7 linked regions of the Homo sapiens genome follow. The protein of the gene in region 1 interacts with the protein of each later gene in a pairwise test. Each region holds a gene or a part of one and is shown on either strand. Other genes may lie near its edges.

Region 1 (3,500 bases):
GAGAAGGGGAGTCCATAGAATAGGTGGATCTACCCCAGCAGAGAGGTTGGGGAAGGCTTCCCTGAGGAACAGAAGGTAAACCTGGAAGTGGAAGAGAAGCAGTGAAAAGGGGTGGGAGGGGCATTCTGGGCAACAGGAATGGCAGAGGGAAAGGCCTTGTGGCCGGGCACAGCGTGGAAACAAGACGGTGACAGGCACATGTTGATGTGCAGGGCACCAGCTCCCAGGGCCTAAGAGCAAAGAGAGGTCTGGGGCAGGGGTTAAGCAGCTGGAGGTATGGTCAGATTTATGTCGTAAGGAGCTCCCTGGCTGCCATGGGGAGAAGGGACTGGAGCGCTGGAGTGGAAGAAGGAACAGTGAAGAGGGACTGGAGGCCTGCTGGGCTGCTGGCTCTGCAGGCAGGGAGAAGTGGGGATCCATTTAAAGGGAAAGGGCCTGCGTGCAGTGGCTCATGGCTGTAATCTCAGTGCTTTGGGAGGCTAAGGCAAGAGGCTCACTTGAGCCCAGGAGTTCAGGACCAGAGTGGGCAATATAGTGAGACCCCATCTCTACAAATATTAAAAATTAGCGGGGCACGGTGGTGTGCACACCTGTAGTCCCAGCTTCTTGGGAGGCTGAGGCATGAGGATTGCTTGAGCCCAGCAGTTCAAGGCTACAGTGAGCTATGATCGCACCACTGCACTCCAATCTGGGTGATACAGTGACAGCCTGTCTCTAAAGAATAAAGAAAGAACACTTAAAAAAAATAGGTTGGGGTAGGGAAGGGCAGGGCTGGGACCTGAAGAGAGCTTTGTCCCACCCGGAGGCAGAAAGGGGCACCAGGTGGCCTCCCGGGCTCCAGAGGCTGCAGCACAGCAACCCATCAGAAGCCGGGAGAACAAAGACCAGAGGCCGTTTCCCCATTCGCTCCCAAGACAGGCCGGGGCAGGCAGGCTGGGAGGATGCAAGGTGGTGCCGGTAACACCGGCACAGACCTGCCGGGAGCAGAGAGCAGCTGCACGCTGGGAAGCCAGGGTTCTCTTCCCCAGACGAGGAGCTTTGGAAGCTCTCTAAAGCAGCTTCTCCCCCAGGTCCCCTACTTCCAGGGCCTCCCCCAACCACACCCTTAGGGTATTGCTTAAAGGGTGTGGACGGAGCTGAGTCTCTCCCCCAAAATACCCTTTCCCAACATGATCCGCCCGACAGTGCCTGAAATGCTACCATTAGCAGCTGTTCCTCCAGGTAAGCTCAGCTCTGTCCTGAATCGAATTTATCCAGTCTCATTCCTTCTTCCAAGAGAACTGGGCAAGGGATGGAGGGGCAAAGCTAGAGAGAAGAGAGGTAGAGGGGGTTGCTGGGGGTAGAGGCAGTGAGCACAAACACCAATGACTCTACCATTTGGCCTGGAGCAGTCCCCAGGCACAGTTGCTGCCAGATCCAGGTACGAGTGGGGAGGCCTCATTTGCTTCCCCAGGCCCCCCTGGACTTCCAGCATCAGCCATTTGTGAGCTGTGAGCTCAAGGTGAATGTGAGCCCTCTGTGAAACAGGACACTTCCACCTGCATGGCAGGCCCGCTGTCAGAATGAGATGTAACATCCATGGCCTTGCTGGGCTCACAGTATGTGCCTGAGAAATGGCGGGGCGGCTCTCTCTAAGCTGTTACCCACATGGGTCCCCTCCCATATCGATCAGGCGTTCCTACCAACACTGATCGATGGGTGCATGTGCGTGTCTGCTTGAGTCAGCTCCCTGGTCAGCTCTGGGCTTGGCTCAGTCATGAATCTTTTTTTTTTTTTTTTGAGACGGAGTCTCGCTCTGTCTCCCAGGCTGGAGTGCAGTGGTGTGATCTCGGCTCACTGCAATCTCTGCCTCCCAGGTTCAAGTGATTCTCCTGCCTCAGCCTCCCCAGTATCTGGCTGGGATTACAGGTTTCCGCCACCACACCCAGCTAATTTTTAATATTTATTTTTGTAGAGATGGGATTTCACCATGTTGGCCAGGCTGGTCTTGAACTCCTGACCTCAAGTGATCCGTCCGCCTTACCCTCTCAGAGTGCTGGGATTACAGGCGTGAGCTACCGCGCCCAGCCCGTCATGACTCTTAATAGCAGTGTGTGCTTCCTAGTATTGGCTGCTATGATTTGCCGGGCACTCGCTCTGAACCAGGTCATGGGCTGGACCCATCATGTGCATCCCCTCATTTGATCTACCCAGCAGCCTCACCAACTGGGGGTTGCTGTTGTCACCCCACCTCATAGATGAAGAAACTGAGGCTCGGAGACATTAAGTGACTTGCCCAAGATCAAACAGCTTAAGAGACCCAGAGCTGCGGCCTGAACTCATGCCCAGCTAGCATCAAACACTGTGTTCTTGCTTTTTTTTTTTTCTTTTTGAGACAGAGTCTCACTCTTTTACCCAGGCTGGAGTGCAGTAGCACAATCTCAGCTCACTGCAACCTCTGCCTCCCAGGTTCAAGGGATTCTCCTGCTTCAGCCTCCTGAGTAGCTGGGACTACAGGCACCCACCCCCATGCCCAGCTAATAAAACACTGTGTTCTTAACCACTAAGAGGCTCAGGGTACCCCAGGTGCCTCCCAGTAGAGCATGCTTCCCTTTTGCCAGCTCTCCCCTCAAAGCCTGGGGTCCTGCCTCCCATGCAGGAGCGCTCCATCAGGGCGGCCCCAGTGTTGCAAGACCCGTCTAGGCAAGGCCAGGCTGCTGGGTGTTTACTGGGACCCAGGTCTGGGTGGAGGGGCAAGATTAATCCCATTCAACAAATTCAGAAGCGCTGGGGCTCAGGGATGCTATGTTTCTTTTCAAGCAGAGGCAGAATTGAGCCTGACTGCAGAGCTGGGTCTTGGCCACTCCATCCCACCCCGTGACAGGTCAGATGCCTCCTCTGTGAAGTCCTCCCTCACCTCCCAGCATCTGTGCTCTGACTGTGACAACTCTCACTTGAGGCCTGTCACAAAGTATGTGAGTGGCCAGGGTGGAGACCTCATCTGTCCGGCTCTATGCTCCATTGCTCCTGCCTGGCCCCATCAGTCCGACGCTCATGTAACCATACATGTACTGAAGCTTAACTCCATCTTATCTCTGTGATGTGACTGCCAGCGACTCAAGTGCAGGGAGGTTGTCCACGTCTCCTCCACGACCACGTGCTAAAACCCAGCAACAGTGCCTATGGAATTGTGCAGTGCACAGCCTGTCCACCATGATATCAAGTTTAACCCTGGGTACACCACAGCTAGCTTGCCCGCATTTGCTTAATAACTGTAATCGTCACAGATGCTATTACCTGCGGCCGCTTATCATTCACAACCTTTCCCCTGCATTATTTCATTTAATCCTGAGCCAACATCGCCAGGCAGGCACCGTGCTTATTCCCATCCCACAGGTGAGAAAACAGGCTCAGAGAAGCCAAGCAGCTCCTCTGAGGTCGCACAGCCAGGAGGGTGGCAGCGGGTCTCCTCCAGGGCCTCTCTACTAGGCTGGAGGCTGTCCTCGGTCACCTGCACCATC
Region 2 (3,500 bases), on another chromosome or scaffold:
CTCCTGCCTCAGCCACCCGAGTAGCTGGGTCTACAGGTGTGCGCCACCATGCCTGGCTAATTTTTGTATTTTTAAGAGAGACGGGGTTTCACCATGCTGGCCAGGCTGGTCTCGAACTCCTGACCTCGTGATCCGCCTGCCTCAGCCCCTCAAAGTGCTAGGATTAGAGGTGAGCCACCGCGCCCGGCCTTATATGTTGTATTAATTTTAACAGAGCTTTTGTATCTTTTCCTTTATTTTTCTGTTACTTTTAAACATAGAATATCTTACCTATTCTAAGGTTATTTAATATTCACTGATTTCTTAAAATAATTTTTAGAGTTTTTTATTTATTTATTTATTTAGATGGATTCTCGCTCTGTTGCCCAGGCTGGAGTGCAGCGGTGCGATCTCGGCTCACTGCAAGCTCCGCCTCCCGGGTTGACGCCATTCTCCTGCCTCAGCCTCCTGAGTAGCTGGGACTACGGGCGCCCACCACCACACCCGGCTAATTTTTTGTGTTTTTAGTAGAGATGAGGTTTCACCATGTTGGCCAAGATGGTCTCGATCTCCTGACCTCGTAATCCGCCCGCCTCGGCCTCCCAAAGTGCTGGGATTACAGACATGAGCCACCGCGCCCAGCTGCGTTTTCTTTATTTGACTCTGTAGCTATCTGAAATTTGTATTGATGTATGGGGCAAGATGAAGCCTTAAATGGATTTTTTCCCCATTTTTTTCTTTTGTTTTTGAGACACAGTCTCACATTGTTGCCTGTGCTAGTGTGTAGTGGCGCAATCTCGGCTCACTGCAGCCTCCACCTCCCAGGTTCAAGTGATTCTTCTGCCTCAGCCTCCCAAGTAGCTAGGATTACAGGCATCCACCACCACGCCTGGCTAATTTTTTGTATTTTTAGTAGTGACAGGGTTTCACTGTTGGCCAGGTTGGTCTCGAACTCCTGACCTCATGATCCGCCCACCTCTCCCTCCCAAAGTGTTTCCCCAATTTTTCTAACATCATTTATTGGATGATCAACAAATGAATAGCTGAATCCCATTGAAGTATTTATGTTACATTCGTGTATTTACTAGTTTCTATTGACCAGTTTTTATTGTCACATCTTAACATTTTGGTGATTTTATATTATAAATAATACATTATATAATTATTATGGGATATCTATAAGTAAGTTCCACCACCACAAATTATCTTATTCAGTTATAATAAGATAATAATAAGATATAATAAGTTATAGTACTTCCTAAAGTACTATACATTAAAAAATAAAAGAGTTAGTCCAGCCTTACTGTGTTTGCTCTTAAGGTAAGTTAGCATAGATGCATACATAAAGAAAAAAACAGATCAAAGAAACTGAGCTGTTGATCCTTCTTCAGTTTCTCTAAGGAAAAATCCAAACTTGGAAGAAGTAGCAGTTACAGCAAACAGAGATTCCTTTATTTCAAAAGTCTTCTATAGTATCTCTGACTGCCCCCTAATGTCGTCTCCCTAGCAGTCCTATGGAATAAGTGTTTTCCTCTATAAAAAGTAAAAATGCTTTGCAGTAAAGTGTTTGTGTCTAGAGCATTCTTTTTAGGGGGATAGTTTTTTTATGCAATGGGTTCTTAGTTGCAGCCAATTGGGGTATCTTAATTTTATAAACCATAAAAACAGTGAGTAATTTCCCTGGTTGTTCACAAGCTGTCAAGAATGGTTTCAGGAAAACCAACCCAAATGCCCATCAATGATAGACTAGATAAAGAAAATGTGGTACATATATTCCATGGAATACTATGCAGCCATAAAAAGGAATGAGATCATGTCCTTGGCAGAGACATGGATGGAGCTGGAAGCCATCATCCTTGGCAACCTAACACAGGAACAGAAAACCAAACACTGCATGTTCTCACTCATAAGTGGGAGTTGAACATTGAGAACACCTGGACACAGAGAGGGGAACAACATACACCAGGGCCTGTGGGTGGTAAGGGGAGGGAACTTAGAGGACGAGTCAATAGGTGCAGCAAACTAATATGGCACATGTATACCTATGTAACAAACCTGCACGTTCTGCACATGTATTCCATTTTTTGTTTGTTTGTTGTTAGAATAAATAAAGAAAAAATAAATAAAAATTTTAAGAAAAAAAAAAAAGGTACAACTTGAGTTTCTCAGGCTTGATACAAATGAGGTTCACATTTTATAGCCTTTTGCCCTTACTTGAAGACACCTATAAAATGTTCCATAAGAATTCCTGAGGTCTTTTCAGTTACCAACAGCTAGCTAAGTCTGGTATCAGAAATACCGGAATCCTAGAGATTGTGATTTAGGTACTTCTCTGTATTTTCAGAAATTTTTCCCTAGAAATATTTCTCATATGTGCCCATGAATGTATCCCTTCCATCTGTGCTCTCTCTGTTTCTCTGTTGCTCTCTCGCTTTCTCACTCTTGTTCACTGTCTCTCTTGCTCTCTCTCTCTCTCTCTCTCTCTCTCTCTCTCTCTCTCTCTCTCTCTCTCTCTCTCTCACTGAATACTACTAACTGATGCACCAGAAAGGGGCCAAAACTGTGTTAGCAATCTGACTCCCCCTCCATTGTCATGTAACATCTTACACAAAGCAGGGAAGCTAATGCCTTGATATTTTATAGAGATATTGGTGAAACATTTCTCAGTTTTTATTTAAACTCTCTCTCTTTTTAGAACCCACATATGAGTCCATGGCACTAGGTCAGAGATAAATTAGAATGACCACCATCATAGTCTACTCAGAATCACTCCTCCTTTCCTTAGTCATTTAAGGCTTTTATTTTGGATCAAGCCTTTTGTAGTTACTTCACCTTCTTTCAGAGTGAGTTTTTCTCCCAGGATGCTTCAGTGCTTTATATAAATAAGCTTCCAGTAGGCTTATGCACTTGTTTACAACACAGGACCAGATTATAAAGGTTAAGCTGAGATCCCATTACAATGAGAATCTCTGAGCTCTGTGTCACAACATAACTTGTCCTCTCATCTCTTTACTGTTTTCTTTCTTTTTCTTCATCTTGTTTTTATCCTATCAGTGGATTATTCTGCTTGTGCCCACTTTAATATGTGTCTACACATTTAATTTAAATAAACTGTAGTCTACTTTTTAACTTACTGGCAATCTTCTAACTAGTCATTATTTCATATACATTAAAAACCTCAAATTTGGACCAGTTTTTTAACTGGTACAAAATCCGGTTTGTGAAATAATATTATACTTAGGTCAGAGGAAGCAGAGACCTCCCAAGGACTTCAGTGTGTAGTGACAAATAGCAAAATTTCATTCTTTATGTCATTGGAGAAACCCACCCGGAGCTGAAAACTAAGTCAGATTTCTTGAGTAGCTCCAGTATTCTTGGGATAGCTTTAACAACTTACCTCTCTCTGAAGATGTACAACCATCTTCAGGATTTACGTACTTTAGGGCCTTACCTCCACTTTATAGTGAGCCAGCTGTGACTAATGTTGATCTCTTGTTTTTTGAGGGAACAACAACTTAGAT
Region 3 (3,248 bases), on another chromosome or scaffold:
ATTCTGGCCTCTTCCCTGGGGTGTTCTTCTGGTTTTTTACTTCCTGGTATGACCTCTGGACACAGATTTTGGCCTCATATAGGAATGCCACCATTACATATGTCCTCATTTGACATTACTCTCTAACTTAACATGAGCATCTTAGTTTTGTGGTCTTCAGTTTTTAAAGGGATGCTCTGAAAACACTGTTCTGCAGTGCACTGTGCAACCTATTTCACTCCTGGGTTTAGCTGACCTCTTCTTGTGCTAAACTAACTAGGAAAATAAACTAGGACTGATTATCAGTCTCTTTACCTAAATCTTCCTTTTCTTCCCACACTGTAATCATGATTATTTCCCCAGACAGTCTCTATTTCTCTACATTGCACTGCCATAGACTACCCTATTAGCCCCCCTAAATGTAGCTCTTTTGGTTTGACTTTAGTAGTCAATGAAAGAAGGGGTACATCCCCAGTCTCACAGAAAGCACATACACACAGATTGAACACCAGAAACTGGTCTTTCAGTCTTCCATCTTGCCCAATATTTATTTTTTATTTAATATTTTTCATATTGTGCCATTTCCTCAGCATTTACTTACAAATTTAAGTTCCTTACATTAATAGGTTTTCCCTCATGTGAATTCTCTGGTGTTGACTAAGGTTTGAGCTCTGACTGAAGGCTCTTCCACACTCACTGCATTCATAGGGTTTTTCTCCAGTGTGAATTCTAAAGTGTCGAATAAGATGTGAGCTCACTCGGAAGGTTTTCCCACATTCACTACACTCGTAGGGTTTCTCTCTGGTGTGAATTCTCTGATGCCTGATAAGATGTGAGTTCAGGTTGAATGCTCTCCCACATTCTTTGCAACCAAAGGGTCTTTCCCCAGTGTGAATTCGCCGATGTCTAGTAAGATCTGAGCTCTCTGCAAAGCTTTTCCCACATTCATTACATTCATAGCATCTCTCTCCAGTGTGGATTCTCTGATGCCTAGCAAGTTTTGAGCTGTGCCTGAAAGCTTTCCCACATTCATTACACTGATGAGTTTTATCTCCACTGAAAACTGCTGCATGTTTAGCAAGTTTTGGGCTCTTGAAAGATTTTCCATATTGGTGATTTTTTTCTCCAGCATAAATTATTTGATGGTTAATAAAATCTGAGTTCCATTTGAAGCTCTGGTCACAGGTACCATGTTTACAAGATTTCTGGTGTGTGAATTCATTTGAGTTCAGATTTAATCTCCTCTCACATCCATCGTGGCTTATTATTTCACCTCTGACTGTATTTTTGTGGGTGAGGATTTTACCAAAACCTTCATCCTGGGCAGACGAGAGTCTCTGAGACTCCCCTGATTCTTTTTCCCATTGTCTCTTTACCCTGCCTGCAGACTTACAGATGTCTTGAGACTCACCAGATGCTTCTGATATGTATCCTGAGATTCTTCCAGATATAATTCTCTGTGATTCAATTTTTTCAAAAATTTCCAGCTTTGGCATGGATCTACTGTTTTCACTCTCATTATCTAAAATAAAAAAGAAAGGGAAATATTACCTGTTTGCTGCACGAAAAGAAAATTTTATAGCATGCTCAAGATAGTTACATATTGATATGCCCACTTTAATATATGACCTTTCACATGAGAGGAATGATAGAATGAAAGAGGATGATAGGAATGAAAGAAACATTGGTAAGAGCAAGTAATGCCTGCAGTGGTTGGCAGAGAGAGGAATCAGACGTGAAGCATATATATTAGAAAAGATTGGGAGGATTGTCATCAGCAAGAACTCAAGAGATAGGGGGAGATAGAGTACGGAGAAGGAACTCTACAATGTTGACTGCAGCAGATCTTGGGAACCTTGGGTCTATGATACATTTCTAGAGGGAAAATGGAGGCACTACCTCAAAGAAAGCAGATGAGAACACAAGAGAGAAAAGTAAAGCTATAAGTGACTGTGAAGTATGTGTGAGAAAACTTCCATCCACCTATTGTCTATTTCTTCCTCATATTCCATGGTTAATCAGTCTTCTAAATTCTGTCATCACTGTCCACTAAGTGTCCCTTGTATAAATCCCTTCCTTTATATTTCTGCTACCATCGCCATAGTCTCGAACCTTACCATTTCCTATCTAGACTTTAACTGCCTCCTTGCTGTTTTGACTCTGCACTTTTCTTCTTCCTAGTTATCCTAAAGATCCTTACTAGACTAATGGTCATTAAACACTGCCATCCTTTCATACCCTACTCAAAAACCTTGAATCTCTCTCTCTCTTTTTTTGTTCAAGTCTAAATTCCCAAGCCTGGTTTCCAAGATCCATTTATGATCCAGTCTTCACAAATCCCACTCTATACTGTGCTGGAATTGAACCGCCCTTCTTTATTATAAGCTGTCCTTTGTCTACAATACGCTAGGGCAGGAAAGAGGGTTAGGGAGTGCTGTTCATGGGGTGAGGGAAATTTACAATTTTATATACGACAGATGGAGATGTTTCCAGAACAAAACTGAAGGCAGAATATGTAGAAATTTATTAAAAATTAATTGTGGCCAGGCTCCGTGGCTCATGTCTGTAATCCCAGCACTCTGGGAGGCCAAGGCGGGCGGATCACGAAGTCAGGAGTTTGAGACCAGCCTGGCCAACATGGTGAAACCCCGTCTCTACTAAAAATACAAAAATTAGCCGGGCATGGTGGCAGGCACATGTAATCTCAGCTACTCGGGAGGCTGAGGCAGGATAATTGCTTGAACCCAGGAGGTGGAGGTTGCAGTGAGCTGAGATCACGCCACTGCACTCCAGCCTAGGTGACAGAGCAAGACTCTGTGTCAGGAAAAACAAAACAAAACAAAACAAACAAACCAAAAAATTAACGGTAAGTTATTCTTGGGTTTACTATAGGGACAATTCACACCTTAAGTGATACTGCATCTATGAATCTTTTAAATAGATGAGTTTTAGAACAGAGATGAGTATTCTGTGGAAGTAGTCTCTAGAACTATAGCTAACTTTCTATAAAAGTGTAAAAGAGCTTTATAAGACCAAGAGCATAACAGGAAAAATATGGATCACGGTCTATGTTACTTGTGAATTATATACTATTTCTCAGTATATCATCATGTATCTGTTTCTCTTGATCATTATATGTACTTCTCTATGAACATATTTTGCTTCTGTCCATGTATTTCTTTTTCTTTTCCTTCTTTTCTCTTTTCATGATATTTTCTCAACTCATTCACTTTTATTTCCTTTAATTTGGTCATATCATAAAAATGTTC
Region 4 (2,974 bases), on another chromosome or scaffold:
GGTGTCTCGCTGTGTTGACCAGGCTGGCCTCCTGTCTTCTGATGGCTTATTCTTTATCATTGGCAAACAAAAATTTCCAAAAAATAATCATACTCCCCATTTTAAGATAAAAAAGGGATGTTGAGGCTATTATATGAGTAATGGTGGAAAACAAATAATTAGCATTGTTTTATATCTTAATCTCAAAAGTAGTTTTCATCAGTTTTAACTTGTCGAAACATACCTGGTAAGCCTCTATTATCATCTGTACTTTACAGAAGGGGAAATGAAGGCAGAGAAAAATGTGTATGTCTTGTCTTGCCTAAAGTCAGACACTGAATGGTCAACTAAAAAGGACCTGGAGCAGAGACAGAATTAATTCACTGTCTTTCATCCAGGAACCATTGATCTTGGGCTGCAGGTGAGCAGTGTTGTCAGTGGACAAGGCTTTCTGAAAGAATTCTTGATTCCCCCTCAAAACTGAACTAATTTGAAATAAAAGGATATTTTACTCAGGTAGATTCTTTGGTCCAGAGAAGTTTAATGATGACTGAAGCTTTGACCACATTGAGGAAACTCAAGGTTTCTAAAATAGATTCTTTGATAACTAGTTAGGCCTGAGTGTCCAAAGAACTTTTGATATTACTGCTATATTAGTAGAGTTTATTTGCGGTATGAATTCTTTGATGTCTAATAAGAGCTGAACTTACTCGGAAAGGCCTTCCACACTCATCACATTCATAGGGTTTTTCACCTGTGTGGATTCTCTGATGCTGAATAAGACCTGTGCGCCCACTGAAGTCTTTCCCACATTCTTTACATTTATAGGGTTTTACTCCCGTGTGTACTCTATGATGTCCAATGAGATGTGAGCGCTGAATGAAGGCTTTTCCACACTCATCACATTTATAGGGCTTCTCTCCCGTGTGAGTTCTCCTGTGTTTACTAAGGTCTGAGCTATGACTGAAACTTTTCCCACATTCATCACATTTATATCGTCTTCTTTCCCTCTGTTGCCATTCTGATCTGCCCTCATTTTCAATAATATCTTTGGACTTAGGATGCTGAGGAGTATCTTTGTTCAGTCTGTCATTTATCTCCCCAAGGAATTCCTTGTCTTTGGGCATATCTTCCTTCTGGAACAACTCTTCATTCTTAGTCCTAGTTTTATCACCTGTAACAAACAAACAGTACACAAACGGGTCCTATTCTATGTTTGAGAAGCAAACAGCCTATGGAAGAAAGAACATGTAAATGTTATAAATGTGTTATAAAATAATGAGAAGTCACATACAACACACATATCAAATATTTGGTACCATCTTATTTTTGGTATCATCATAGCACAGAGTCACAATGTAAGGAAGAAATTAAGAATTAAGGAAGATATCAGCAGAACAAGTTGTTTGAGAGTAGATTAAGAGAAGAAAAGGCAAAAATAGAGCTCAAGAGATAAGTTAGCAATACTATGTAAGGGAAGACGGATAAATGAGGGGACTATAGATATGCCAAGGATAATTAGAGAGACTGGAGAACAGAGATGGGGAGGGAGGTAAAAGTTTGGGAGAAACATGCAGGGGCCTGAAACATAGGTGGCAAGTAAAATCAAGTAAAAGTGAATGGAGAGGATAATAGGATTTGGGGTCTGAGAGGAATATAGTGAATAGGAACCATCCAAGGAGGGGAGTGTGTTTGAAGGATAATAATTAGCTGGAAGCAGGAAGCATGACAACATGCAGGTCAGAGTAAATAGAGGAATGAAAAGGAATAGGAAATGACAATGGATAGTCAGTGTATATGCTGGGTAAAATATTTTTTCCTGAAACTGATGTCCTTGCTGTCATCACCTCCTGTCTAAATCCTAGCTCGGTGGTTTCTAACCTTATTGTGCATCAGAATCAGCTGGATCGTTTATTAAAACACACATTGCTGATTTTCCCTCCTACAGACGACTCCTTATCAGAATCAAACTCAGAGCAGTTGCTATTCTTAGAATGTTATTCTCTGATGCTATTTTTTTTCACCGTTTCTTTGCCTAAAATGTCACCCCCTTTCAGCTCCCACCTGACCTTCTCAGCTCAAGCAAGCCTACTCTGTGATATTTTTGCAGGTGCACCTCAGGGATAGCTATCCTCTTTGTAGTTCACGGTGTATCTCTAGTATGGTAATTATTACACTATTGTAAGTGCTCACTCTCCTGCTTCTTGAAGAGAAGTAATGTAAGTGTCTAACCTTTGGATTCCTTACATTTAGTATAGTGTCTGGCATATAGCTGCTATTTAGTAAATACTCAGTGAAAGATGAATGAATCAAAAGACAGGTTGAGCCAGGCACAGTGGCTCATGCTTATAATCCTAGCACTTTGGGAAGCTAAGGTGGAAAGATCACTTGAGCCCAGGAGTTTGAGACAAGCCTGGGAAACATAGTGAGACCTCTCCTCTAAAAAAAATAAAATAAAATAAAAATAAAAAAGAACAGATAGGAGGTTCTTAACGTCACTTCTAAAGCCAAACAGTAACCAGCACTCCACTCCTAGAGTTAAAGCACTGAAAGGCTTCTTTACATTACATATAATTAAATGTCATCCTTTCCAGATAGCAGCTAGGAACATCTTAGCTCAAAATAATTTTTCAGATTAGACAAATCATCTGGTAGGGATCCTACAGGATGGGATATTGGTAAAACTTAAGTAGTAAGAATACAAAATAGGCTAGAGTATAAGGAACTACCCGGAGAGGCATTATTAGACATGGGAGCCTCTAGAGAAAGGGTGGTGAGCACTGAAAAAGGTAGGGTTTGGATAAACTGGAATTTAAAATTCACCAGCTTTTTAATGTAGCCTGGGGATACACTAGACACCCTAGTTTGTAATTAGGGAGCTGGGATGGGGGATAAAACCCAATTAATTTGACATGCAGATAAAAACAAGAAACTTTGCTGTATTGACTGATCATTGTCTCTCTTCCCTACTTCTTTCATCATGGGAATGTGTTAT
Region 5 (4,167 bases), on another chromosome or scaffold:
GCTTTTACTTCTGAGGATTTAGTGAAAACTTCCTGGTTCAAGCATAAAAAGAAAAAGATAAAAAAAGATATATGTATATCATCTATATCTATATATCTATATCTATATCTATATCTAGGGTTGCCTGTAAATGAGGCATTACAAAAATCAATTGCTTTTGATTCATCAAAAATTGATTAAACACCATGGGCTGTAACTATATTTGAATCCACGTAGTCAAATCAATGTTATTCAAGTAGTTATATTTATAAGACAGCCTCATGACTAATCAAGTAGGATTCTTAGCTTGATCTTCTGTTTTAAGCATTTGGCTTGACCATAGAAGTCTTTTGGCTATTTAAAATATCAAATTTATTTTCAAAGGATAAAGATTTTTCCCTTTTGGAAAACAGTGCCTCTGAAAGCAATCCTAAAGATGTAATTGCTGCAATATAAAATTTGGAACTTAGCTTCCAACAGTGACCACTTTGGAAGTTTATGATTAAGTGTAAATTCTGGTATAATAGTTTAACTTCATGCTCATTATTTTTACAGCCAGACCTATTAAGAATATGTACTAGCGTTAAGTATGTATACTTAATGTGTGTATGAAGTAAATGTTTTAGTGTTTTAAATCTGCCACTGTCATTTAGAAATTGAGATCTAGTTTTCTAGTTTAAGGATGGCCTTAAAGTATATTTATTTTATATTTATTTTATCTAATTAGACTTAATGTCCAAAGCGGATCATTTTAACTTAGTTATAATTACACAGCCAAACACTGCTCTTATAACCCTGATTGGTCTGGAAAACATGATTCGTTTTTTTTTTTCCCCATAGGAAACTTGATGAGAGAGCAAGGGTGAATCTGTACAAAGAATCTGACACTTAAAAAGACAGCTCAGGCCGGGTGCGGTGGCTCACGCCTGTAATCCCAGCACTTTGGGAGGCTGAGGCAGGTGGATCACGAGGTCAGGAGATCGAGACCATCCTGGCTTACACAGTGAAACCCCGTCTCTACTAAAAATACATAAAATTAGCCGGGCGCCTGTAGTCCCAGCTACTCGGGAGGCTGAGGCAGGAGAATGCCGTGAACCCAGGAGGCGGAGCTTGCAGTGAGCCAAGATCGCACCATTGCACTTCAGCCTGGACGGCAGAGCGAGACTCCGTCTCAAAAAAAAAAAAAAAAAAAAAAAAAAAAAAAAAAAAAAAAGACAGCTCAGCCCTCATGTCTGTCTGACAATGTGTCTTCAGCACCAACTTTTTATATGAGAGGTTATGTACATTATCTCCTGTCAGGTGCACAGTGTCTGCGGAGGGATAGCAAAATGTAGACGACCAGCTCTTACCTCTTTATGGTTCTTTTTGAGGTAAGTCATCTCCTCACTCAGGGTTTCATACTGAATCTCCAGATCTGTTCTGCACAGGGTTATTTCATCCAAAACTCTTCGTAACCCATTGACATCAGCCTCTACACTCTGGTGAAGAGCCAGCTCATTTTCATACCTTAAAGAGTGTTAATGATTTCCTAATTTGTCACATGGTTGGAGACATAGTCACTAGTCACTGATCAATGACAAATGCTAGCATTCTGGAATTTTGAAGATTTGGCCACAAGAGGCATTTTCAAAGCTTGTTGTATAATAATTATTGTTTCTACTTTGCAGTATTTGACAGAAAAAGAACTAGGGTATTGGGCGCTAGTTTTAATAGCAGTTCATGCTTTGTATTTAATAGTCAAAGCATAAAAAAGTAATAACATCCTGTTTATGTGAAATTCAAGTGTTTTATAATTTTGGAATAAGAGTTGCTAAATTTGATGTAATGCGTTGCATGAATTGCCATGAATTCATTTCACTCTGGCAGTCTACTTACTTGAGTCTGAAATCATCAGCTGTAAGCCTGGCATTATCGATCTGCAGAACAGCATTAGCATTGCTGGTGGTGGATGCGATGATCTAGAAATGGGAATTTGACTTTTATCATGAAGTAAACCAACTGAATCTACTTAATGCTTATTTCTAATGCTAAATTGGAATTCTCTTTAAGAAATCACAAGTAGGAGGGCATGGTGGCAGGCACCTGTAATCCCAGCTACTTGGGAGGCTGAGGCAGGAGAATCTCTTGAACCCAGGAGGTGGAGGTTGCAGTGAGCCAAGATCCCACGGTTGCACTCCAGCCTGGGCAACAAGAGCAAAACTCCTTCTCAAAAAAAAAAAAAAAAAAAAATCACAAGTAGGAATGATAAATGTTTTTAGAATTTAATAAAGAAAGGAAAACAAAATTTAGAAATAAAGGTACATGAAAATGATTGTGCAGTATGATTTCTTACCTGATTTTTAAGGTCATCAATTATTGGGAAATATCTGCTATAGTCATGATCAAGACCACGGCAAGAGCCAGGCCCAAATTTCTCATACCAGCCCTTGATCTTCTGCTCCAGGTCAGCGTTGGCCTCCTCCAGAGCATGCACACTGTCCAGGTAGGATGCCAGGCGGTCATTGAGGTTCTGCATGGTCACCTTCTCATTGCCAGAAAGGAGCCCCCGCTCATTCACAGTGAAGCCAGCACAGGGATTACCTCCCCCTGTGTTTCCTCCCGATGAGCTGCCTCCGAAGGCACTAGAGAAGCCACTTCCAATCCCTGAAATGCCACAAGAATTTCCAGTACCAAAGCTGGTTCCCCCACCATAGAGTCTGAGTGATCCAGTGGTGGGACGAGGACAGGACCTCCTGGATGCACTGGAAAGTCGAAGAGACATGGTATCAGGGCAAACGCGTTGCAGAGCTGTATTTGTGAAAGCCAGAATGGAGTGCCTTCTTGTCTAAAAGGTTTGGTTTGCCTTTTTATAGGCAAGTCCCAAGTGTGTTCTGAATGAAATTCTGCCTACACAGAGTAAAACATGGCTTGCCAGTCTCAGCAAGTTGGCATAATTGGGTGATTTTTTCTAATTAGTAACTCACTTTGCTGGGCTCATTCCTGTAGGAGGGCAGTTGCCCTCAGGTTGGTGGTTATCTGAGAAATGGGTCTGGGTGGAGCAATGTCAGGTTCATTATTACGTTTTTAAATGCTGAGTGAGTCATTCTTCACTTCCATCCTTGGAAGTAAACCTCATCAGCTCATTACAGGATAGAAATTTAGCATCATGGTTTTGGGCTATTATGCCAAGGCAGATTGTGATGTTTCTGAGGCTTTTTCTGCTTTTATTTTCACAAGTTTTTCCACATAAGTAGAGAATAGAACTGTAATCATTTCCCCAACCTGGTTCTTCAACCAATAGGTTTTTGTTTTTATTTTTAAATTCCTCTTGCCACTCTTTCCCATGGGAAGTTAACTTCCATTCTGGCTGACATGAGCATCATATTCTGTTGACACTTATGACTGAGGAGAGTTGTCTTACCTTATCCATTTTGGTAATTAGGAGCACACCCCTAATTGGTGTTATGTTTTGTGGGAGTTTGGAAAGACATTAACTTATTTCCTGACCCTGCAAAATCTGAAGCAAACCTGGTAGGAACTATTTTTTCTGTCTTAATTTATTGTGGTTTAGCTCAGATGAAAGTCATCAGTAAGGTATTTAGTCGGTGGGAATTCACATATATTTACTGAAAACTCTACCTATTATGGAAATATAAAAAATTGACAAATAAGGCCAGGCACAGTGGCTTACGCCTGTAATCCTAGCACTTTGGGAGGCTGAGGCAGGTGGATCACTTGAGGTCAGGCATTTGAGACCAGCCTCACCAACATGGTGAAACCCCATCTCTACTAAAAATACAAAAATTAGCCAGGCATCATGGCGAGGTGCCTGTAATCCCAGCTACTCGGGAGGCTGAGGCAAGAGAATCAATTGAACCTGGGAGGCAGAGGTTACAGTGAGCTAAGATTGTGTCACTGCACTCCAGCCAGAGTGACAGAATGAGACTCTGCCTCAAAAAAAAAAAAATGAGAAATAAAAATTGTATATATTTATGGTGCACGACATGATTTTTTGATATATGAATATATTGTGTAATGACCAAATCAAGCTAATTAACATATCTATTACCTCACATACCTATTTTGTGGTAAGAACATTTAAAATCTACTTTCTTATTGTTATTAACTATAGTCACCATATTGTACAATAGTTATCCTGAACTTATTCTTCCCACCTAAATGAAATTTTGTATTCTTTGACCAAAATTT
Region 6 (3,500 bases), on another chromosome or scaffold:
TTGTTCTGTACTAAGAAAAATTCTTCTGCCTTGGGATGCTGTTGATCTATGACCTTACCCCCAACCCTGTGCTCTCTGAAACATGTGCTGTGTCCACTCAGGGTTAAATGGATTAAGGGCGGTGCAAGATGTGCTTTGTTAAACAGATGCTTGAAGGCAGCACGCTCGTTAAGAGTCATCACCACTCCCTAATCTCAAGTACCCAGGGACACAAACACTGCGGAAGGCCGCAGGGTCCTCTGCCTAGGAAAACCAGAGACCTTTGTTCACTTGTTTATCTGCTGACCTTCCCTCCACTATTGTCCTATGACCCTGCCAAATCCCCCTCTGCGAGAAACACCCAAGAATGATCAATTAAAAAAAAAAAATCTTAGAAGTGACCAGAAGGAGGAAGAAAACCAATTATCTACAAAGGAATGACAACTACATTGACAGCTGGCTTCTCATCAACAATGATAGATGCCGGAAGACAAAGACGTAAAATTATGAAAGTGTTTGTTGAGAAAAAAAAAAACAACCATCAACCTAGAATTGTATGCCCCGTTAAACTATCATTCAAAAATAAAAGTAAAACTTGTAAAAAAAAAAAAAAAAAAAAAAAAAGGAATGAACACACAGATGCCCATGTAGCTAACATTTCTGATGTTTATCTATGTAAAGATTCTTTGTTATTATTTAAGTCTCTTTAAAAGATAATACTGTTTAATGCAAAACAATAGTGTTTTGTGGGGTTTAAACACACAAAGAAGTGAAACATACAACAATTATTGCACAAAAACTAGGAGGGGAAAAATAAAAGTATACTTTTGTAAGGTTTGTACACCAGATGTAAAGTAATATATCACCGGAAGGTAGAGAGTGATAAGTTAAATATGTCTACTATAAACGCTAAAGCAACAAAGATAAAAGCCACAGGAAGATGAAATTGTTTTAAAAATACAGAATTAATTCAAAAGAAAGGATACAAAAGGGAAAAAGGAACAAATGAGACAAACAGAAAACAAACAGTAAGATGGTAAATTTAAACCAAACTATACCATTATCCATTAAATGTAAATGGTCTAAACACCAATTAAAAGACAGAGATAATTACAAAGGATCAAAAGAACAAGACCTAACTGTACACTATCTATAAGAAACTCGTATTAAATAGGAAGACACAGTTAACCAAGTAAGTAAAAAGTATAGAAAATGGCCTCTCTTAAGATAAGACTAAAGAAAATGGCTGTTGACATAGTTTGATTCACAAGTTGTCACAATTCAGGAAGTATTTTTATATTCAAGAGTCCTTTTCAAGCCTTGAGATCTAAGTAAATATTAATACTAACTTATACTCTTCATAAAAGTCACCACATATGTGTTTACACATCACCATTTCAATTATCCAAACAGTATCTCTAAATACAGCATATTAGAGATTTCAAAGGAAATTCTCAAGTGAGCTAAGAAATTAGCAATCTGTTCTGATCAATAACCATGTGTTCTCAAAGATGGATACATATACTCAAAATTTTACCTCTATATAATGTGTGATTTTAATAAAATACTATCTATTAAGACAACAAAGTCTGAGCCAGATGACAGAAACAAAATGCAACCACATCTCACCACATCCTTTTCCTTTGGGAAGGAACTGGGGATTAAAAAAATGAATATACTACGCTCATGAGAGACAAGTATGCTAGGGAAAGAGTGGGAATACATTTGTGAAATGTCATGGTAGGTTGGATATTACACCTATAAATGTTTGCCCTACCTTCTCAATTTTCTACATGTGAATTGGTATTTCACCTAGGTTGTCAGGTTTATATATGCAGTTTTTCATATCATTCCATTATACTTTTGATATGAGTCTCCAGTGACATCCTGCATTTCACTCCTGCTACTGATAAATCTGTCTTCTTTTTGTCAGTCTTGCTAGAGGTTTGCAATTTTATTAATCTTCTTAAAGAACCAACATTTTGTCTCACTCATTTTCTCTATTTTTTCTGTTATCAATTTCATTGATTTTTGCTCTTTATTATTTCCTTCCTTCTACTTGCTCTGGTTTTATTTTGCTCTTCTTTTTACAGATTCTTAAAGTGGGAGCTTAGATTGTCCATTTGAGACTTTTCCTGTTTTCTGATGTATGCATTTCATTCTATAAATTTTCCTCTGAAATTTAACTGCAGACTCAGAAAAAGAATAAGATATGGCCACAAGTTTGGAAATAAATAGCAGAAACTTTTAAAATGACCAAATGGGAAACACAACAATTTACCAAGAAAATTCTCCAAGGTAAGATACAGAAAATATTCAAACTCAGCTTAAACTCAAAACAAAATGACTTAGACTGAGTGACTTCAAGTAAATAACCATTTAGTCAGCCATGTAGTAAGAAGGAAAAACCCTGCATGTGGAATATAGCCCACTCAATCTGCATTACAGATAATACGAGACAGGGAGCAGGCAATGCAGTGGGGCACAGAAGAGTTAACAGAGCCACATTTTTCCAGTTAGTAGTCTTAGAGGAACTTCTTTACTACCCAACCAGTTTCACGGATTCCTAAATGCTGCCTAACAGGAGCTGAGGCTGGGCATATGTGACGGATAAATGTACAACCATCATGATTTCATTTCTGCAGGTTGCCCCACCCCATGGAGAAATACTAATTTCTAATATAATATATGGAAGAATAAAATATCTTCTTTCTTACCCTCTGAGCTTTTGCGAGTTCTTCTTTTAATCGTTCATAGCCCTTTTCTCTAACTTCCAAAACAGATGGGCTTCGTAAACGAGACAGACTATCAGTACTCAACCCAAAAATATCATCACTGCCATCGCAAGCCTCTGTTATAGTAGCACCCTGTAAAAACTCTCTCTCTGCATTATAGTTGTCCTTTCTTGTAGTTAATTTAGTTAATCCAGCTGTGACTCCAGAGGTAGAGCAAGGGGCTGGGTCTGTAACATGAAAGCTGTAAAGGAGAGAGACATTTTTCAGAAAATATCAGCATATGCTCCAATAGAACTGGCTTAAACACACAGCTCTAGAACTGTACTACCCAATTTGGTAGCTTCTATATTTAAATAAATAGTATGTCCTCAGTCATATCAGCCACATTTCAAGTGCTCAATAGCTACATGTGGTTAATACCTATCATTCATATTAGATAGCACAGAAATAGAACATTTTCATCAACACAGAAAGTTCTACAGGACAGTGCTACTCAAGAGCAGGGGTTAACAAACTATAGCCTACAGGCTAAACCAAGCCTTCCACCCGTTTTTATAAGGTATCAATGAGCCAAGTATAGTTTTTACAATTTCAAATAGTTGAAAAGAAATCTTTAAAAGAATATTTTGTGACACATGAAAATTAAATGAAATTCAAAATTCTGCATCCATATATGAAGTTTTATTGGAACACAACCACTCTCATTCATTTACATACTGTCTATGGCTGCTTTCAAACTCTAAAGGCAGAGTTGAATAGTTGCAACAGAGACTGCATGGCTTGCAA
Region 7 (3,224 bases), on another chromosome or scaffold:
CGCCCAGACTGGAGTGCAGTGGTGCGATCTTGGCTCACTGCAAGCTCCGCCTCTCGGGTTCACGCCATTCTCCTGCCTCAGCCTCCCGAGTAGCTGGGACTAATGCCCTGCCACCAGGCCCGGCTAATTTTTTGTATTTTTAGTAGAGACGGGGTTTCACCGTGTTAGCCAGGATGGTCTCGATCTCCTGACCTTGTGATCCACCCGCCTCGGCCTCCCAAAGTGCTGGGATTACAGGCGTGAGCCACCGCGCCCGGCCGCCTCTGAACCAATTCTTAAAGGCAGTTGCTCTGCTCCTCCAGCAACAGGTTCTCGTGGAAGTAAATGAATCTAGTAACAACTTTCTGATTAATTCGTATTTTTTTCTGAAGGCAAGCTCAGCATGCTTAATATGTATTTTTAAGACTATACATAAAGAAGACCTTCCTGTATTCAAAGTAAAGCAATTAAAAAAGAATAGAAGGAGGGGAGAGTGAGAAAATAACCAATGACACCAGAGCTTTAATCGTCACACTTTTATTAAGGAAACTTCCCCATAATAAGTGAAGAGGTAGTTCATAGTATGTCTAACATACAACAGATTTAGAACAGCTATTCATGAGCTGAAATAAAATCTTCTGGGTTGTTTAGGACAGTATTTTAGAAGCAGTGACATTGGTCACCTTCCATTTATAGATCTGCTAATAAAGAAACTTAAATTAAAATCATATCTGATTTACCTCAGAGCCACTTCAGTTTGGAGTTTAGTATTAAATAATAAATAAATAACTGACAGAGTAATTTTTTTTTAAACCAAACTATGGTAGAGAGTCATCTCCTTTTTAGTTCTCCTGGGGATCCATAAAATACAAATGCTGAATGATAAAGGTTTTAAAAATCTTCCTCCTCTACAGAAATATGACTAGTTTTGAAAGTCATCTTCCTCTGTAAAATACTGGATATCAGTAACTTGACTTCTTTGCAATATAATCTAACAAACACGTATAAGCAAAGAAGGAGGAAAGTGAAGTTCCACAAAAATTAGAAAAATGTCTCACAGAAACAGAACACCTCTCCAGCCAAAAATGGAGGAGACTGTAAATCACTTCAGTGGTTTGCATTTTCAAAAGGTGAGAACTAAATGTTTTACTGATACAAAAGCACAAAGTTGCTGATTTTAACTGATCGAATACAGCAAGGCAGCTTTCTTTATTATTTCTAGTATAAAAGCAAATTGAGACTTTGTTTCACTAAGACCACATGAGACTATAAGCTCCATGAGGGCAGGGACTATATCAATCTTACCTTCATTATCCTCAGTATCTAGCATAGTGTCTAGCAACAGTAGGTGCTTAACTAATGTTTCTTGAACAACTGAATGAACCCAGAAATAGTCTCCAACCAAAGAGACCAATCTTATTTGAACCCGTGCCTTTTAGTCTTCAAACCAGTAACAAAAACAAGACATGAATGTGAGCAAACGAAGCACTCCAACTTGAAATTTCCCTGTGAAGAAATGATGTTGACAGAAAATACCAAAAAATGCTGTTTGGTTGACAGGGTAGAGTCTCACTATTGCATAGAATTGGTACTCTTTGGCTGGATCATGTAAAAATCACAATGCTAGGAAGCATCATTAGACCATATAATGAGTGATGTTAGGCATAAGGTACCTATTAGTCTTACCACTCAACTGTATTATCATTTTAAATATTTGAACAAAAGACAAAAATCATACTTCACATCTGACTCACATGATGATAATTTACATATGATAACAATGATACATGTAAACGTATCAAATATAACAATTGAAGATCCCCTCTGACTATGCAAGCCTAATTTTTCAAATCTGCATGCACTCTCATAGCTCAAAAATAAAAACAGAAAATCCTGATGGAAACTAATAAACAGTTTTCCACACAAAATCAACTTCGCATTTAGATTCTTCTCACATTATTCTTGCTTTTTCCCTCCCTAAACAAACCTAGCAAATCACTCACTTGGATGGGAAGAATATAATATTCATCTAACTAAAAAATAATTAATATAAATCCCTCTGCGATATTTTGTTGGCAAAATTCAGGTTGTCTCAGAAAGCCAACAGGGAGACACAAAGGGGAAACACAAACTAGGAGCTTTTTGCTAATGCATTATTCTTCATGTACTAAATCTTTTAAAGCCAAGGGATAGCGAGAAGAAGGAAGAAGATGCTAGCTCATATTTAGTTATACCTTGGTCAATATTGGCCAGGCCACCTCTTCAGGCTTTGGATACCCCAATTTAAAATGAAAGAGGTGGAGTAAATGACCTCTTAAGATTCTCTAAGGACTCTACTAATACTATTACCTAAATCTAACTCATGGGTGAGAAACAAATAAGACTTAGAATTTTAGGTCTGAAGTACAACATGTGTTTTAGGAAAAAGAGCTGTTTTGTTTTTCCTTTTTGAAAATTAACTTTGTATTTGCAATCAAAGGCAGCAAGGTGGCACAGTGTACCTTTAAGAGGTATCTGAATACAGAAATTTGATTGCCCCTTCTGTGTCCAACCTAACTTTTATCATCCGTTTTAGAAATTAAGGTACATGAGGAAACGAAAATTCAGAGACTTTTATGGTGCACAGGACAAAACTCTGATGGCCAAACTCACCTTTCTGATGGCTAAACTCTGAAACAAAATTCAGAGACTCCCAAATAGCCTCTTTTTAGAGAGCCCACTATACTTTAGCACATTTTTAGCGTGCCTGGAGCAGTCCTGATCTCAAAAGCATCAACAAGTTACACATTAATTATAAGCATATGGCCTCTTATGGGACATGCTACCAGAGAAACCGCCCATGTAAGTGCTGTTGTATAAGTGTACTTCTATCCCTGTTGATTATGCTCCTCATGGTCATCCCTAACTATCTGCCTGCAGGTGTTCCTCAAGAGAGAGTACTCTGGTATATGTGAACAATTCAATGAGATGAAGTTGGGCTATGATACTGTTGAAAAGAGTACATAACAAACCAGCATACTTCTTTATAGCCAGCTCCAAGACAAGTACAAATGGTAGGAAGCAGATTCATTTATCAGACATGGAGGAATAATCAATAGGCAACCAGAAGTTCTATCACATTTTCAGGTCAATAGCAATATCACCTTATATCTCAGCCTATTTTCTACCAAAGAAAGATTATTCACTTCTCTTAGCATAGCATCTATTAGTGGAGAGTAGGTGACGTTATTAACTTGTTGGTACCT

Evidence for each region.
Region 2: the proteins of PPL (region 1) and CEP57L1 interact in binary tests that used the Homo sapiens proteins (3 or more experiments, as listed by UniProt).
Region 3: the proteins of PPL (region 1) and ZNF165 interact in binary tests that used the Homo sapiens proteins (3 or more experiments, as listed by UniProt).
Region 4: the proteins of PPL (region 1) and ZSCAN16 interact in binary tests that used the Homo sapiens proteins (3 or more experiments, as listed by UniProt).
Region 5: the proteins of PPL (region 1) and KRT25 interact in binary tests that used the Homo sapiens proteins (3 or more experiments, as listed by UniProt).
Region 6: the proteins of PPL (region 1) and RAB3IP interact in binary tests that used the Homo sapiens proteins (3 or more experiments, as listed by UniProt).
Region 7: the proteins of PPL (region 1) and ZBTB26 interact in binary tests that used the Homo sapiens proteins (3 or more experiments, as listed by UniProt).

Annotation. Positions count from the first base shown.
Region 1 is NC_000016.10:4,930,649-4,934,148, forward strand, and holds part of PPL (periplakin), read right to left. Parts: intron 1-3,500. UniProt on the Homo sapiens protein: Component of the cornified envelope of keratinocytes. May link the cornified envelope to desmosomes and intermediate filaments. May act as a localization signal in PKB/AKT-mediated signaling.
Region 2 is NC_000006.12:109,140,507-109,144,006, forward strand, and holds part of CEP57L1 (centrosomal protein CEP57L1), read left to right. Parts: exon of another isoform or gene 1-169; intron 170-3,500. UniProt on the Homo sapiens protein: Centrosomal protein which may be required for microtubule attachment to centrosomes.
Region 3 is NC_000006.12:28,086,816-28,090,063, reverse strand, and holds the end of ZNF165 (zinc finger protein 165), read right to left. Parts: intron 1,502-3,248; coding exon 594-1,501; 3' UTR 501-593; downstream 1-500. UniProt on the Homo sapiens protein: May be involved in transcriptional regulation.
Region 4 is NC_000006.12:28,127,609-28,130,582, reverse strand, and holds the end of ZSCAN16 (zinc finger and SCAN domain-containing protein 16), read right to left. Parts: intron 1,212-2,974; coding exon of another isoform or gene 1,154-1,211; coding exon 633-1,153; 3' UTR 501-632; downstream 1-500. UniProt on the Homo sapiens protein: May be involved in transcriptional regulation.
Region 5 is NC_000017.11:40,752,532-40,756,698, forward strand, and holds the start of KRT25 (keratin, type I cytoskeletal 25), read right to left. Parts: upstream 2,801-4,167; 5' UTR 2,741-2,800; coding exon 2,312-2,740; intron 1,938-2,311; coding exon 1,855-1,937; intron 1,486-1,854; coding exon 1,329-1,485; intron 1-1,328. UniProt on the Homo sapiens protein: Essential for the proper assembly of type I and type II keratin protein complexes and formation of keratin intermediate filaments in the inner root sheath (irs). Plays a role in the cytoskeleton organization.
Region 6 is NC_000012.12:69,755,860-69,759,359, reverse strand, and holds part of RAB3IP (rab-3A-interacting protein isoform alpha 1), read right to left. Parts: intron 2,956-3,500; coding exon 2,697-2,955; intron 1-2,696. UniProt on the Homo sapiens protein: Guanine nucleotide exchange factor (GEF) which may activate RAB8A and RAB8B. Promotes the exchange of GDP to GTP, converting inactive GDP-bound Rab proteins into their active GTP-bound form.
Region 7 is NC_000009.12:122,915,066-122,918,289, forward strand, and holds the end of ZBTB26 (zinc finger and BTB domain-containing protein 26), read right to left. Parts: 3' UTR 501-3,224; downstream 1-500. UniProt on the Homo sapiens protein: May be involved in transcriptional regulation.